Linked DNA regions of Homo sapiens. The protein of the gene in region 1 interacts with the protein of each later gene in a biochemical or structural test. Each region holds a gene or a part of one and is shown on either strand. Other genes may lie near its edges. The genes, in order: MMRN2 and CD93.

Region 1 (5,879 bases):
GAAGTAATAACTCCTAGCAAACAATGAGAAGTGCTGATAACCTTGTTAACGCCAACAAGCAACTCACTACGAAGTCCAGTCTGATTTTTTTTTTTTTTTTTTTTTGAGACAGAGTCTCGCTCTGTCTCCCAGGCTGGGGTGCAGTGTCACCATCTCAGCTCACTGCAACCTCCGCCTCCCGGGTTCAACCGATTCTCCTGCCTCAGCAATCTGATTTTCTTATAGAGAAGACTATATTCAACAAATTTTGAGTACTTAATACCAAAAAAAACCTTGTTTCTGATAGCTAGATGACTGTTTTCTCAGGCCAGTTTGCTATAGGATCTGAACTTTTTTGAAAACCATATGCTGGTATATTACAGGAATAATTGCAGCTATGAGCTGTACTGTCTAGTCCAGTATTAGTATCTTTGCCTAGTGTGGAAACTTCCAAGTGTTTTATATAGAATAAACGGAAATCATTCTACATAACAGGGCCTGGAATAATCAGTCACATTTACCCACATAGTTTCACGTTGTCCCATGTTTTTTTTACCTACTCTACCAATTATTTTTGCCCTCCAGAAGTAAATGAGGCAGAGATTTGAAGGGCATCACTTTATTCCAAAGTTGATCATTAGTGAGGGGGATTTTTACAGTCTTCTTTCCCTCCTCCCTCAGCTGCCTCCTGGTTAGAGATGCTAACAAGAATTACGATGGTCCTAAGATACTGGAGGAAGTAAAAAAGTTGAAGGCCCTACATATTTTAGTTCACGTTTGGCATTTCTTGGTCTTTACCCTATGTAAGGCAAGGAGAAAAAGACATGAAATTTAAATTACAGATAAACACAAGTGTATTAGTCCATTTTCACACTGCTATCAAGAATTGCCCAAGACTGGATAATTTATAAAGGAAAGAGGTTTAATTGACTCACTGTTCCACATGGCTGGGGAGGCCTCAGGAAACTTACAATCATGGCAGACAGTGAAGAGGAACCAAGGCATCTTCACAAGGTGGCAGGAAGGAGAATGAACACAGGAGGAACTATCAAACTTATAAAATCATCAGATCTCGTGAGAACTATCACAAGAACAGCATGGGGGAACCGCCCCCAAGATCCAATTACCTCCACCTGATCTCTCCCTTGATGTGGGGATTATAGGGATTACAATTCAAGATGATATTTTAGGTGGGGGCACAGCTAAACCATATCCTACAAGGAATGACTGAAACTAAAGATACTAATTTCCTTTCCCTTGGTTGGCCAGGCTGTCGTCTTCATTACTGACTAATAGAGACCAAGCAGGTTGGTTTAATCCCATTGCCCTCTAGTGCTTTCCAATGTTGGCCAAAATGTTGCCTCCATTTTAAACATTCCTCCTGGGGAAGAATGTCTTTCTATCATACGATAAGGGAGAAGAGAAGAGGAAGCAAGAGAAAAGTTTAAAGTGTTGTACAGAAGTTTCCAACCACAGGAGGAGCAAAACACCAAAGAAGTTGTAGAATACAGGGTGTGGTGAAGAGTTGGAGCCCAGGCCGTGCTGTCTGAGAAGGCATGCCAAGCCAAGGTTCAGGCTTCCTAGGACCATGTCCTGCCCGGAGAAGCATTCCAGTCCTTCTCATCATGGAGAAATGGCCAAGCCCCATGTGGTTACAGGGAAGCCACGTACACCACACCATCTTTGCAGAAGGTTTCCAGGGAAGAGACAGACCAACTGAATGACCTCCAGCCCATCCTTGGCCAGAGCCCCAGGCCGAGGAGAGCTGGGCGAGTCCATGATGTCTGATCAGATTGGGGCTGGGGTTCAGGTCTTAAACATCAGGAAGCCCCCAAATGCAGTGCCCGACAGGCTTCTCTTTGTTATTGATCCCTGGGTTAACTCAAACCATACTCGCTCACCCTTCTGCAGCTCAGCCATGGCAAAGACCGTTGCTGTGCTTCCACTCCCCTGCCCAGTGGTACAGACTGGAGTCCGATGGTGACCTCCAAACACCAGCTGCCCGGTGCCTGGCCCTGGGCCAAATTCAACGCTCACTGCAAACAGGTAGACACCACGCTCAGGGGCTCGGAAGTAGCCATGTTCAGGGAAGTAGCTGCTGCCAATGTTGATGTATGTGGTGTTGAACTTCACTGTCTGCAGGGCAGCCGTCCCTTCTGAAAAGCTGGCATAGAAGGCCACAGGGGATCCTGAAACATAACAGGACAGTGCTTAGTGATTCATCCCTTACACCATTGGGTGGGAAATTAAACCCTGAGACCTACCGTCCTCACCTTATTAGCAATGGAAATAGGTCACTATTTCTAGATAACCTAGATATTCCCAACAGCAGTGTTATTGCAGGAGAAAAGCTAGATGGCCAATTCTGTTTTTCACTAATAGAGAGGAAGGAAAATGCAAGTCTGTTGTCTGAGCTGGTGTACATTTTAACAAAATACTTTCATTTTTTTTTTAGACAGGGACTCACTCTGTCTCCCAGGCTGGAGTGCAGCAGTGGTCATGACTCACTGCAGCCCTTTTTTTTTTTTAACGTAGAGATGGAGTCTTACTATGTTGCCCAGGCTGATCTGGAGCTCCTGGGCTCAAGTGATCCTCCAGCCTCAGCTTCCCAAAATGTTGGGCTTGCAGGTGAGCCACCATGCCCAGCCACAAAGCACTTTCTCGTTTGATCCCTTTTCCTTCCAACTTCCTTGAGAGACAGTATCCCTGATTGACAAAACAGGTTGAATCCTTCACCGGCTGCCCAAGGCTACATGGTTTGTAAATGGCAGGCTGGGACAGGAACACGGGTCTCTGACTCCCAGACGACCACCACTTGCTAGGAATCTTGAGATACTCAGGGGAGAGGGAGAAAATATCCATCCTCAAGGTAATAATAATGCTAACACTGGGAAGGTATCTGCAGAGCCATGAAGGCTGGATCCTCCTGGATGTTGAAGACAGAACCTTGGAGAAAGAAGGAAAGAGCAGGTGGAGCCAGGGAAGAGAAGCCCCTTCAAGCTGGTCTTCTTTTTTTTAGTTGATAAAGGGTCTCTTGTTGCCCAGACTGGAGTGCATTGGCGATCATGGCTCACTGCAGCCTCAACTTCCTGGGCTCAAGCAATCCTCCCACCTCAGCCACCTGAGTAGCTGGGTCTACAGGCATACGCCATCATGCCTGGCTAATTTTTTATTTTTTGTAGAGACAGAGTCTTGCTCTGTTGCCCAGGCTGGTCTCAAACTCCTGAGCTCAAGCGGTCCTCCCACCTCAACCCCGCAAAGTGCTGGGATTACAGGTGTGAGCCACTGTTACTGGCCAAGCTGGTCATCTTACATATGGGTAAATTGAGGCCCAGAAAGAAAAAGCTTATTGCTCCAGACCACACAACTAGTAAATTACCAAGCCTCCTGGGAACAGACCTTGAATCTCTAGACTTCTGGTTCTCTGCAGGGACCACTTTGGCCAGCCTTAGGACAGGAACACTGACAGAACACTGGTGCCAGGCCCATGCACGGGCACAGAAGCAGAGGAAGCTGCCATGTGTGGAGGGTGTACAAACAGCCAGGAAGAAGCCAGTCCTGCTGCCTGGACAGCATGGTTGGGCAGCTGGGGACAGGGTCATGAGATGGCACAGGAAAGGTAAGTCCTACTTGGGTCCTGGCTGTGACACTGGCCTTGGCACCAACGAGGTCATGTCCACCATGGGGTTCCTCAACTTGCTCCCTCTGTAGGGGTTTAAAACAAGGTCCCCATTTCTTAGGTGATAAAACCAAAGCCTTCAGAGGAGCAGTTTGCTGAGCAATTACTGACTTGGGTCCCGGAACTCAAGCCTCAGCTCTTTGACTCCCAATCCAGCAAGCCTTTGTGAATAAAAAAATGTTGCTTTTCTCTAGTTCTGGAAGATTTTCTGAGAATTAGACAGCTGAGAATAGCTTTCTCATTTGTGTTCAGATTGTGTCAAATCAGCCGGGCGCAGTGGCTCACGCCTGTAATCCCAGCACTTTGGGAGGCCAAGGCGGGCGGATCACCTGAAGTCGGGAATTCGAGACCAGCGTGACCAACATGGAGAAATCCCATCTCTACTAAAAATACAAAATTAGCCAGGCGTGGTGGGGCATACCTGTAATCCCAGCTACTTGGGAGGCTGAGGCATGAGAATCGCTTGCACCCGGGAGGCGGAGGTTGCCGTGAGCCGAGATCACGCCGTTGCACTCCAGCCTGGGCAACGAGAGTGAAACTCCGTCAAAAAAAAAAAAAAAAAAAAATGCCGGGCGCAATGGCTCACGCCTGTAATCCCAGCACTTTGGAAGGCCGAGGTGGGCGGATCACGAGGTCAGGAGATAGAGACCAGCCTGGCCAACATGGTGAAATCCCGTCTCTACTAAAACTACAAAAATTAGCTGGGCATGGTGGCAGGCGCCTGTAATCCTAGCTACTCGGGAGGCTGAGGCAGGAGAATCGTTTGAACCCGGAAGGCGGAGGTTGCAGTGAGCCGAGATCGTGCCATTGCACTCCACCCTGAGCGAAAGGGCGAGACTCCGTCTCAAAAAAAAAAAAAAAAAAAAAAAAAAAAAAAAGATTGTGCCCAAGTCAGAGGCCGGCGGCTGCCTCTGCAATTCCCCTAACACCCTGCAGGTGGTTCTCTTGCCTAGCCGAAGGAAGGCCGGCCCGCAGCGCCCTCTACCGGTGCTAGGCCCTCGTTCCGGCCGTTCCGTCCGGGCGCCTGCGCAGGGAGTTCCGCCGCAGAGAGAGACCCCCACCCCAACCCAGCCTTGCGCCTGACAGGCCCTAAGATGCGGGAAGGGCTGTGCAAACTCAGAGTGTGCTTCCCTGCAGGGCACACATTCAAGCCCTACAGCCTTCCTACAAACAAATAAAGGGAAATTTGGGGTGTGTGTGTGTGTGTGTGTGTGTGTGTGTGTTTGTGTGTGTGTGTGTGTGTGTGTGTGTTTGAGACAGAGTCCTACTCTGCCGCCCAGGCTGGAGTGCAATGGAGCTATCTTGGCTCACAGCAACCTCTGCCTCCCAGGTTCAAGCGATTCTCCTGCCTCAGCCTTCCAGGTAGTTGGGATTACAGGTGCCTGCCACCACACCGGGCTAATTTTTTTTTTTTTTTTGACAGTTTCGCTCTTCTTGCCCAGGCTGGAGTGCAGTGGCGCAATCTCGGCTCACTGCAGCCTCTGCCTCCCGGGTTCAAGTGATTCTCCTGTCTCAGCCTCCCGAGTAGCTGGGATTAGGCGCCCGCCACCACACCCGGCTAATTTTGTATTTTTAGTAGAGATGGGGTTTCACCATGTTGGCCAGGCTGGTCTTGAACTCCTGACCTCAAGTGATCCACCCGCCTCGGCCTCCCAAACTGCTGGGATTATAGGCATGAGCCACTGCGCCCGGCCTGGAAATTTGTTTTTAAGAACAACATTTTTTTGAAATAAATATCGTCGTGGTAAACACATTTCCAAACCGTGGGGCAAATTCTGAAAGTCATCAGCATATTGAAGCCTTGCACCACGCACGAGAGGAAACAAGAGAGAAGTGTCAGTGTCGGTGGACACAACCTGAACCCTGAAAATGCTGGGGAAATGGGAAAACGTTGACTGCGTTCCTACATGAGGTAAGCCTCGTGCTAGGTATTTGGTAAACGCAGCAGTCTTCATAACAAAACTTTGACATGGGTAGGGATTCTGCCATTTTACTGAGGAAGAAACAGACAAGTGATGCCAGAGCCTGGGTGCTTCCCACTGCTCCACATTGCCTCTTGGGCCATAGGGAGGGTCAGCTGGGGCAGGGGCTGCCTGGGACGGGACCTTCAACAAGGCCTTGGACTTGCCACACGCCAGGCTGCACATGGCCAAGATGGTGGCCTTGTACTTAGCCCTGTGTCTGGGTGGGGAGAGGCCACAGCTCCAAGGCCAGCCTCTGG
Region 2 (7,841 bases), on another chromosome or scaffold:
GGCACTTCCTGCCTCCTTGCCACCTAAGAGGTTAATTGCACTTCTGGCCATTCTGGAGGATGTCAACAGTATCACATTTAGCAAGACTTGTGCTGGCGAAATGGAGGAATGCAAATGTAAAGAAATGTTTCCAGTCCGAACATGTTCCCTTTGACCAAAAAACCAGATCTTCTTACCTAATTGAATAATTAATTGATTTAGTTTTCATCCTAGGAAGAGAAACAAATCATTTCAATCCTAATCAGCATGAGCAACTCACCTTTTCCTCTTAGATGGTGGAAGTGAGCAGAGAAGATATTCAGGGGAGCCCCTTAGCCCCGGCCTCCTCACACCCTGATCCGGAATTGGTCACATTGGAATTTGAAAAGGGAGGGGGAGTAACAATCATTATAGAGTCACGAAATCCCCACCGTGGCACGCCAACACACAGCTTCCACTTCAGGAACATCAAACACCCGTAGAAAATACCTGCATGTTCCAAGGGGCCTTTAAGGAGGAGACTTACAATTGTTTGCTAAGATTCCAGTCCAGTCTTTCAAAAAAATGTGGGTGCCCCTTTGGAATGGGGAGTTCAAAGCTCTGAGGATGGTGGCTGGTGACTCTAGTGTCTCTAGGGCCACCTCACTTTCAGCAGTCTGTCCCAGGTGTCGGACTATGGGAAACAAAACAGACAGCGTTGGAAGCCATGGCGCCTCTGTGCCTGCACGTCCCCACCTTGGGAGAGAGCCCCACGTGCGGCCGTGCTGCAGATGGGCAGTATGCTCTAAGGGGGCCCGAGTGCCTGGCGTGGGGGGAGGTTGAGGGGTCAGCTGCAAGGACCAGGGTGTGTCTGCCCACAGGAAACCTGGGCCTGCTCTTGCTGCCACCTCTTTGTACTGTAGTCAGTGCCCCCATGCCTGCCCATCCCCTCCCCCGGTCACTCAGGGCCCCCTTTACCTGTACTGGTTCTCCATGGCCCTGCTCTCAGCTCGCTCTGGAACCCAGGAGTAACTGTCTGCCGCATTCTGGGGCTTCTTCTCCTTCTTCTCCTCCCTCTTCGCTCTCCGCTTGCGATAGACCAGTAGCCCCAGAGCCAGGGCCAGCAGGAGTAGGATGGCCACCACGGTGCCTAGGATGTAGAATAAAAGCAGCTTTTGCCCGTCAGTGCCATCGTTGTTTTGTGTGGCCACGGAGGAGTCCCCACCTGCAGGCTCCTGGGGGCCAGAGGCAGCTGTGGCGTGATGGATGCTGGGCTCCCTCCAGACGCCTGGGGACCCACTGGGGGCCAGCATCTTGAGTGGGGCAGATGTGATGGGGGCGTCAGATGACAGCGAAGGTCTACTTGTGGTGGGTGTAGCCTTGGGGGTGCCCTCGGGGCCCCTTGTGGGACTGGCTGTTGCAGCACGGGGCACGGTGCTCCCTTCTTTCTCTCCTTTGTCCTCCTCATCGGGGGGCCCAGATGGTGGTCCCAGAGACACAGGCCCCATGGTGCAAGAGACCCCATTTGGGGCCAGCACCCAGCCTGGCAGGCAGCCACAGTGGAAGGACCCTTGTGTGTTGAAGCACAAGCTGTCGCAGAGGGGGCCCCCCGGGCCCACACACTCATCCACGTCCTGGCACTGAGTCCCGTCCTCCCCGGCCAGGACGTAGCCCTCCTCACAGGAGCAGTGAAATGAGCCATCTGTGTTGGTGCAGCCCTGGGCGCAAGGCGAGCGACCCAGAGCACACTCATCCACATCCTGACAGGCCCCCTCTCCAGGACCGCCCGGCTCATAGCCAACCCAGCATTCGCAGCGGAAGCCCCCAGGGGTGTTGACACACTCCTGGGCACAGGGGGAGTCCTGGCATTCATCCACGTCCACACAGTCCAGCTGACTCGAGTCCAGCTGGTACCCTTGGGGGCAGCGGCACGTGTAGTTTTTCCCATGGGGTCCCAGGACGCACGTGGCCCCCCCACGACATGGGCTGGAGCTGCAAGGGTTTCGAGAGGCACAGGTCACCAGGTCATCCAGCAGCCGGAATCCTGGTCGGCAGCCGCAGAGGAAGGAGCCATCCCCCCCTTCAAAGCAGTCCTGGTGGCAGCCCCCATTGTTGAAGTTGCAGCCATACTTGGGGCTGACACAGAGGGGGCCCGAGCTGCCCCAGTCGAACACATCGGGGGCCTTCTCCTTGCACAGGAAATAATGACTCTGAGTCTCGTCCTTGTCACCTTCCCCACAGGCTACATTGGCCGCAGAGGCAAAGGGCACAGCCTCCAAGGAGGAACTGGTGGTCTGGAAGGGGGTGGTGTAGGTCACCTGACCTGGGCCCCCCAGGGCCAGAGGCCGGCACATGCCTTTGAAGCTGAACTTGCACACGAAGCCCTCAATGTTACTTCCGGGGGAGCCTGGGCTCCCACAGGGGCCCTCAGACCACTTGGGGAGGCGGCTGGGAAGGAGCGGCTGGGACAGGTCCAGCAGCAGAGACACACAGCGCTTGGAGATGCACGAGTTCCGGAGCTCCTTGTGCCAGTTAGAGTAAGGCGTGTCCTCCCCCCCGCCCACCCAGCTGAAGCCCTTCAGCGGCAGACTAGGGTCCAGGCACTTGCCCTTCTCTCGCTGGAGCCCAATCCAGAACTTGCTCATCCTCGCCGTCAGGGCTGCCTCCCGCCTCAGGAGCTGGGCCAGTACTCGCTGGACGTGCTGGGCCTCCTCCTTGCTCTTCACAGTGGCCAGGTTGCCCCCGTTCTGGTTGCAGTGGTTCTGGGCCTCGGCAGCGCTCAGCTTGCCCGAGTGGGCCGTGTAGCAGGCGGTCCCCACGCAGACCACCGCCTCCGTGTCAGCTCCCGTCCCCGCCCCGGGCTGGGTCAGGAGCAGCAGCAGCAGCAGCAGCAGGCCCATGGAGGTGGCCATCCCGGTCTCTGTGTGGCCCTCTGCGGGAGGCGAGAAGCCCAGCGGCGACAGGAGCTTCTATCTCGGCTCCCAGCTGGGCCCCAAGGGGAGCTGAGGGGTGAGCTGCAGCCACTCCGGCGCAGAGAAGGACACAAAGGCTGAGGGCTTTCCACGTCCCCCTGACCCAAGGCGCATCCTGTACTGTTGTACTTCTTATTTCTCACCGGATGTTGGGGCTTCCTGCAATGAATAGTTCTCTGACTCCTGCTGCCTTCATCACGGTGCTGTTGTTCATAAAAGGAGTCAGGCAGCTCTGCCGGGTCCCTGGCTCAGCACTGTGGAAACAGCGACGGGGGGAAGACGTTACAGCCCCGAGATACTGCCGGCTTGATTTTGGCTCCATTCTCTTTCTCATGGCATGAGGAGCCTCGGAGGCATGCCATGGAGTGAGCAGGGGCTTTGGGGGCTAGGAACTCGAGGAAGCTCCCTTAGTAACCCATAATAAAATTCCACTTTGGTTTGCAAACCACCAAAAGAGAAAAAAAAAATTCTGAGACTTAAGACACAAGGCCATGGATGGTTATAATTTTCAGCCTTTTTTAGAAGCAAACTGGACTTTCCTTTTGCCTAGCTCATGTTCTCTGTTGACTTTGGGAGCCTTTTTTCTTTTATCCTCCCATCGTGAACCTTAAATAGACAGGCATTTTTTAAATAGGATACGGGTCGTGGGAATGTCTGGGTTTTCAACATAATGCCAAGCTCCTCGATAATGTTAATCCAAATTGGGTGAAATTTGGCAGTTCTGGGGGTTTCATAGTGGAAATATTGCATTGTGAGGTGTCAGGGTCACAAAAAGCATCAGAAAGAAAATGAAAATGTGTCCGGCCTCGTGGCGCAGGGCTTGCAGGCTCACTTCCCCCGGCTCAGGATTCCTAGCAAGGGCCGGAAATCTGGGCAGGGAGCGGGAATCGAAGCCCGGGCAGGCCCTCCCGCGACACCGCGACTCGGCAAAAGCCAGGGACTCACAGTGTGCTTTTCCTGCAGCCACAGACCTTTGCTCATTGGTTGGGATCCCCCAGGAGGGGACCCTGAGACAGGATTTGGGGAGACTAGTTTATGTGGGAGGGGAAGTGAAACAGACAAGGAGGAAGCCAACCCATGATGACTTGCTGAGAAGGTGACCCTGGGCTGCTGGAGCCAGTGCCAGGAAACTCTGGGGGCCTGAGGGGACCACACCTCAGCACCATCTCAGCTGAGGGAGAGGCTCCACTGCTCTCCAAGTCCCCTGTCATTGGTAGCAGGCTGTATCTCTCACTTTGAGAGACTGACTATAAATTCTAGCCCTGCCCAGTGACCAGGGGTCTCTCTCACATAAAACTTGTTTCTATGGACAGACACCCTTGTGGCTCTCGTCTGACCCATGTCCAGTTTATTCCTATCAAGACAGCCACTTCCTAAGAGATCCCTGATGGGAGGAGAGTTGGGTTGGGGTGTGGGTCAGGGGAGATGCAGGAGGCAGCACAAGAAGACACAGGAAGCAACACAAGCACCGTGTCACTTACAGATCCCAGGGAGAGGGCAGTGCACCCCACGGGGCCAGCAAAAAGTGGGGAGCTGTCTGGGTCACAAACACTCACCTGGAGGGGGGTGAAGGGAGAGAGAGAGACCTGGGTCCTAAGCCTTTATTGGGGTCCAGGACGTTTCCCAAGCAGGTTTCCCAAGGGGACTTCTCACTGGTGGGTTTAGAGCAAACAGACACGGGCTCCGTGGGGTCCCTGTGGCTGAGAGGTGGGCATGGCGGCATGTCTGGGAAGTCCCTGTGGGGTGTGGAGTCACTGAGACCATCAAATGGGCTGTATCTGCCTGTCCCACAGGGAAATGGTCACCAGGAGGTGGGTGTACAAGGCAGATATCTGGGTTGGCCGCATTGAGGAACTGGGAGGGGGTGGAGCCCTAGACACCGTGTCAAGAGCAATAAACCCTGCTTCTGGTAGGAGAGGGTCCAAATTAGATTCAAAATGGATGCAATGCACAATTATAAGAATTCTCTACACAGCGGCAACTCTTTGGTGCTCTGCACTGACCGTGAGGGCCCCAGGGGAAGAAGCGCCACGGTGGAGAACACAGTGAACGCCTGTGGACCCGGCACCAGCGACCACCACAGTGGCCTCCATGGAGATGTTGAGTTGTCCCGGGGGCTAGGAGCTCGCTGGCTCCCCAAGGGACAAGGAGGCATCTCTGACTCCAGCTGGATACCTCCTAAGAATGTGCCTTAAGTCCTTGCATTTTAGCAAAGATATTTGAGACATTTTGGGAACTCTCCATAGAAGCCACCAGACCCTCCCTGTGCCCCTTCATTCATCCATCTGTTTGTCCATCCACCCATCTAACAATTGTTGATTAAGACCCTGCTATGCACTGAGTGAGGCACTGGATTCCAGGAGGGGATCCCTGCCTCTGTGATCCTGGAGTCCTGTTAGAGTGGACAACTTTGAACAAGTCACGGCACTGATGGCTTTATTGCAGGCAGCACAGGGGAGCGGGGAGGTCGTGGTTGATACAGGGGTGGCATCCTGACTGGGGGATGGGCAATTAGGAGAGACTCCTCTGGAGAAGACAGGCAGTCAAGCCGGAATCTAAAGGAGAAGCAGCTCAGATGTGGAATGGTGTCGGGATGGGGGAACAGCATGTACAGAAGCCCTGGGGACAGAGAGTGAGTGAAGGGCAGGGAGACCAAAGCCCAGGCAGTGGGAGGGAGGATGCAGGGGAAGATGGAGCCCTGTGAACCCCAGTAATGAAGGCTTGAGGCTTCGTCTTGAAATCCACGGGGAAACACTGAGGGCTGGCATGAGGCCTACATGTGGAAGGGGACTGGTCAGTGGACCCAAGCAGTGGGTGGGGGGGCCCTCAGCAGGTGGCCGCAGGTTTCCAGGCTGTGGAGTCCAGGTCAGATGTTCTCGGGGCTGGGTGGAGGTGGGGGGAAGGGCACCGGGCACGCAGAAGGACTGCATGGCTCCTGCCGGGAGCTGGGGTCCTGGAAGGCTGTGTCCGCTGGAGGTACCTGGTTCTGAGAACACAGGGGATTGCCTCTTGGGGCTCAGGGTCTCCCAGACCCCCTGTCCTTGTGACCTGCCTCCTCGGGACGCTAAGTGTGCCACCAGAGCTGGGTAAGCAGCCAGCTGTGAGGGGTCCAGGGAAGGCTGGTGTCCCTGGCTCCCAGTCAATATAGCTGGCCATGCATTTGAGTTTGGCAAGGGTCAGTCTTGTTCTCTGCTTGGGAGAAGCTTCATTTCTAAGGGTTTATTTACAAGCAGGTAACTTCTTAACATTCTGTAAAATCAATTCTGCAGCCCTAGCATCCACTCATAGCAGGGAGCCGTTCTCGTGGTCTAGGCCCCTGTTTGTGCAGCTCGGAGGTAGATTCCTCAGAGGTAGATTGTGATCTGCAGCATTCGCTCAGCATTCTACTTAGTTGGTGCTTAAGGATATGGGCTAAATGAGTGACTTTCAGCATGTTAGCCACTCTGACCCCCAGATCTTTGTCAAGATATCTTCTTTAGCTGTAAGTTATTCATCTTCCATGTGGGAACTTTCAAACCAATTACTGTTCACTTAGCCAAGTGATGACATCTTAAAGAAGAAAATGAACTAGCAAGACATATACTCTGTTTTTTATCCATTAACCTTGGAAGTATTTGTAAAGCACCAACAGTGAGAAAGACTATGTAAAATGCAGAAACTGCCTTGCCCTGGGGGTCCTTGGATTTTACTTTATTATTTTCAGTAACTTGGTTAACTCAGCCCCACTTCTCATCTATAAATGCAGAGGTGGGAACAGGGCCTCTGGAAACTTTCTTGCTCTAACATTAATAAAAGTGAAATCATGCTTAACTCTCCCCTCTGGAATTAGGGAGAAAGCAAGTTGGGAAGAGAGTGGACACTGAGACCATTGCTGAGCCCTCGACATACTGCACATGTAAGCAAACCTCTGTCTAAACTGCACACACCCAATTTCATCCCAAATTGACCCGCTGACTGCCAAGACACAGGGTAGTTTCCTATTCCTTGTCCCCCACATCTGACTTCCACTGTGTCCCTTCACCCTTTGGCTGATCCCTGCTGGGCTCAGGTGGGTTAATTCACCTGGGACACTTACAGCTAGGTTCTCTAGCTCCAGCCCCGCCCTTCTGTGTCCGCTCCCACCTATAGGGGACGCTCCTTAGAGGCTGTTCAGGGGATTCGTAGAGGCTGAGGGCATGGTGCTTCGACCTCAGGGGAGGATGAAGAGCTTGCTTTTCCTGGGAGGGATTTGGTGGAGTTTTACAAAGAATTTAAGATAGTCTGAATGCAAACTTTGAGGGAATTCTGCACCTCACATACTAAATTCCCCATGGATGGTGTTTCATCCCATTTTATTTAGAGAGCAGATTATACCAGACCTCTCCAAGGACCGATACTTAAACAGCAGGAATCAGCAGAAGGAGATGGAAAAAGTTTTTCTCGGCAGATCTTTGGACGGAAGCCACGTTAGGTGTTCTAGAACCATGGCGAGCCTAACAGCATGGCATGTACCCTGAGCAAAAGGCTCCTCACCATTTGTGTGTATTCTGCAGTCTTTATGAGTACTCTGAGCTTTCTTTTTAAATTGCCTTAAAAATTTACTTTGCACGATGCTGGAATGGAATGTTCTGATCTCAAATATGGGGCGAGTTTAATCTCAGTTATTTGGGAGCAGACTAATTGGTTTGTGGATCATTCAGGCATCCGGCCTGTCTTTTTCCTTTTTTTTTTTTTTTGTAACTAAAAATTAAATTAAAAAGGGAAACAAAGCACACTGCGTATTTCCTGGCATAACATGGTATATGGTAGACTCACAATGAGCAACAGTGGCACAGAAATGGTGGAGGAAATGAAACAGAACTGGAGTCACTGTGACCTGTCATTCTATGGGACCACTTAGGGATTTTGTGTTCAAAGTTTAAAACAGAAACA

What was found.
Region 2: the proteins of MMRN2 (region 1) and CD93 form a complex in vitro, tested with the Homo sapiens proteins (one study listed by BioGRID).

What each region holds. Positions count from the first base shown.
Region 1 is NC_000010.11:86,934,958-86,940,836, forward strand, and holds the end of MMRN2 (multimerin-2 precursor), read right to left. Parts: intron 2,169-5,879; coding exon 1,786-2,168; 3' UTR 583-1,785; downstream 1-582. UniProt on the Homo sapiens protein: Extracellular matrix protein that plays significant roles in the vascular system and is required for the maintenance and stability of blood vessel.
Region 2 is NC_000020.11:23,083,323-23,091,163, forward strand, and holds the start of CD93 (complement component C1q receptor precursor), read right to left. Parts: upstream 3,003-7,841; 5' UTR 2,871-3,002; coding exon 937-2,870; intron 653-936; coding exon 628-652; 3' UTR 1-627. UniProt on the Homo sapiens protein: Cell surface receptor that plays a role in various physiological processes including inflammation, phagocytosis, and cell adhesion.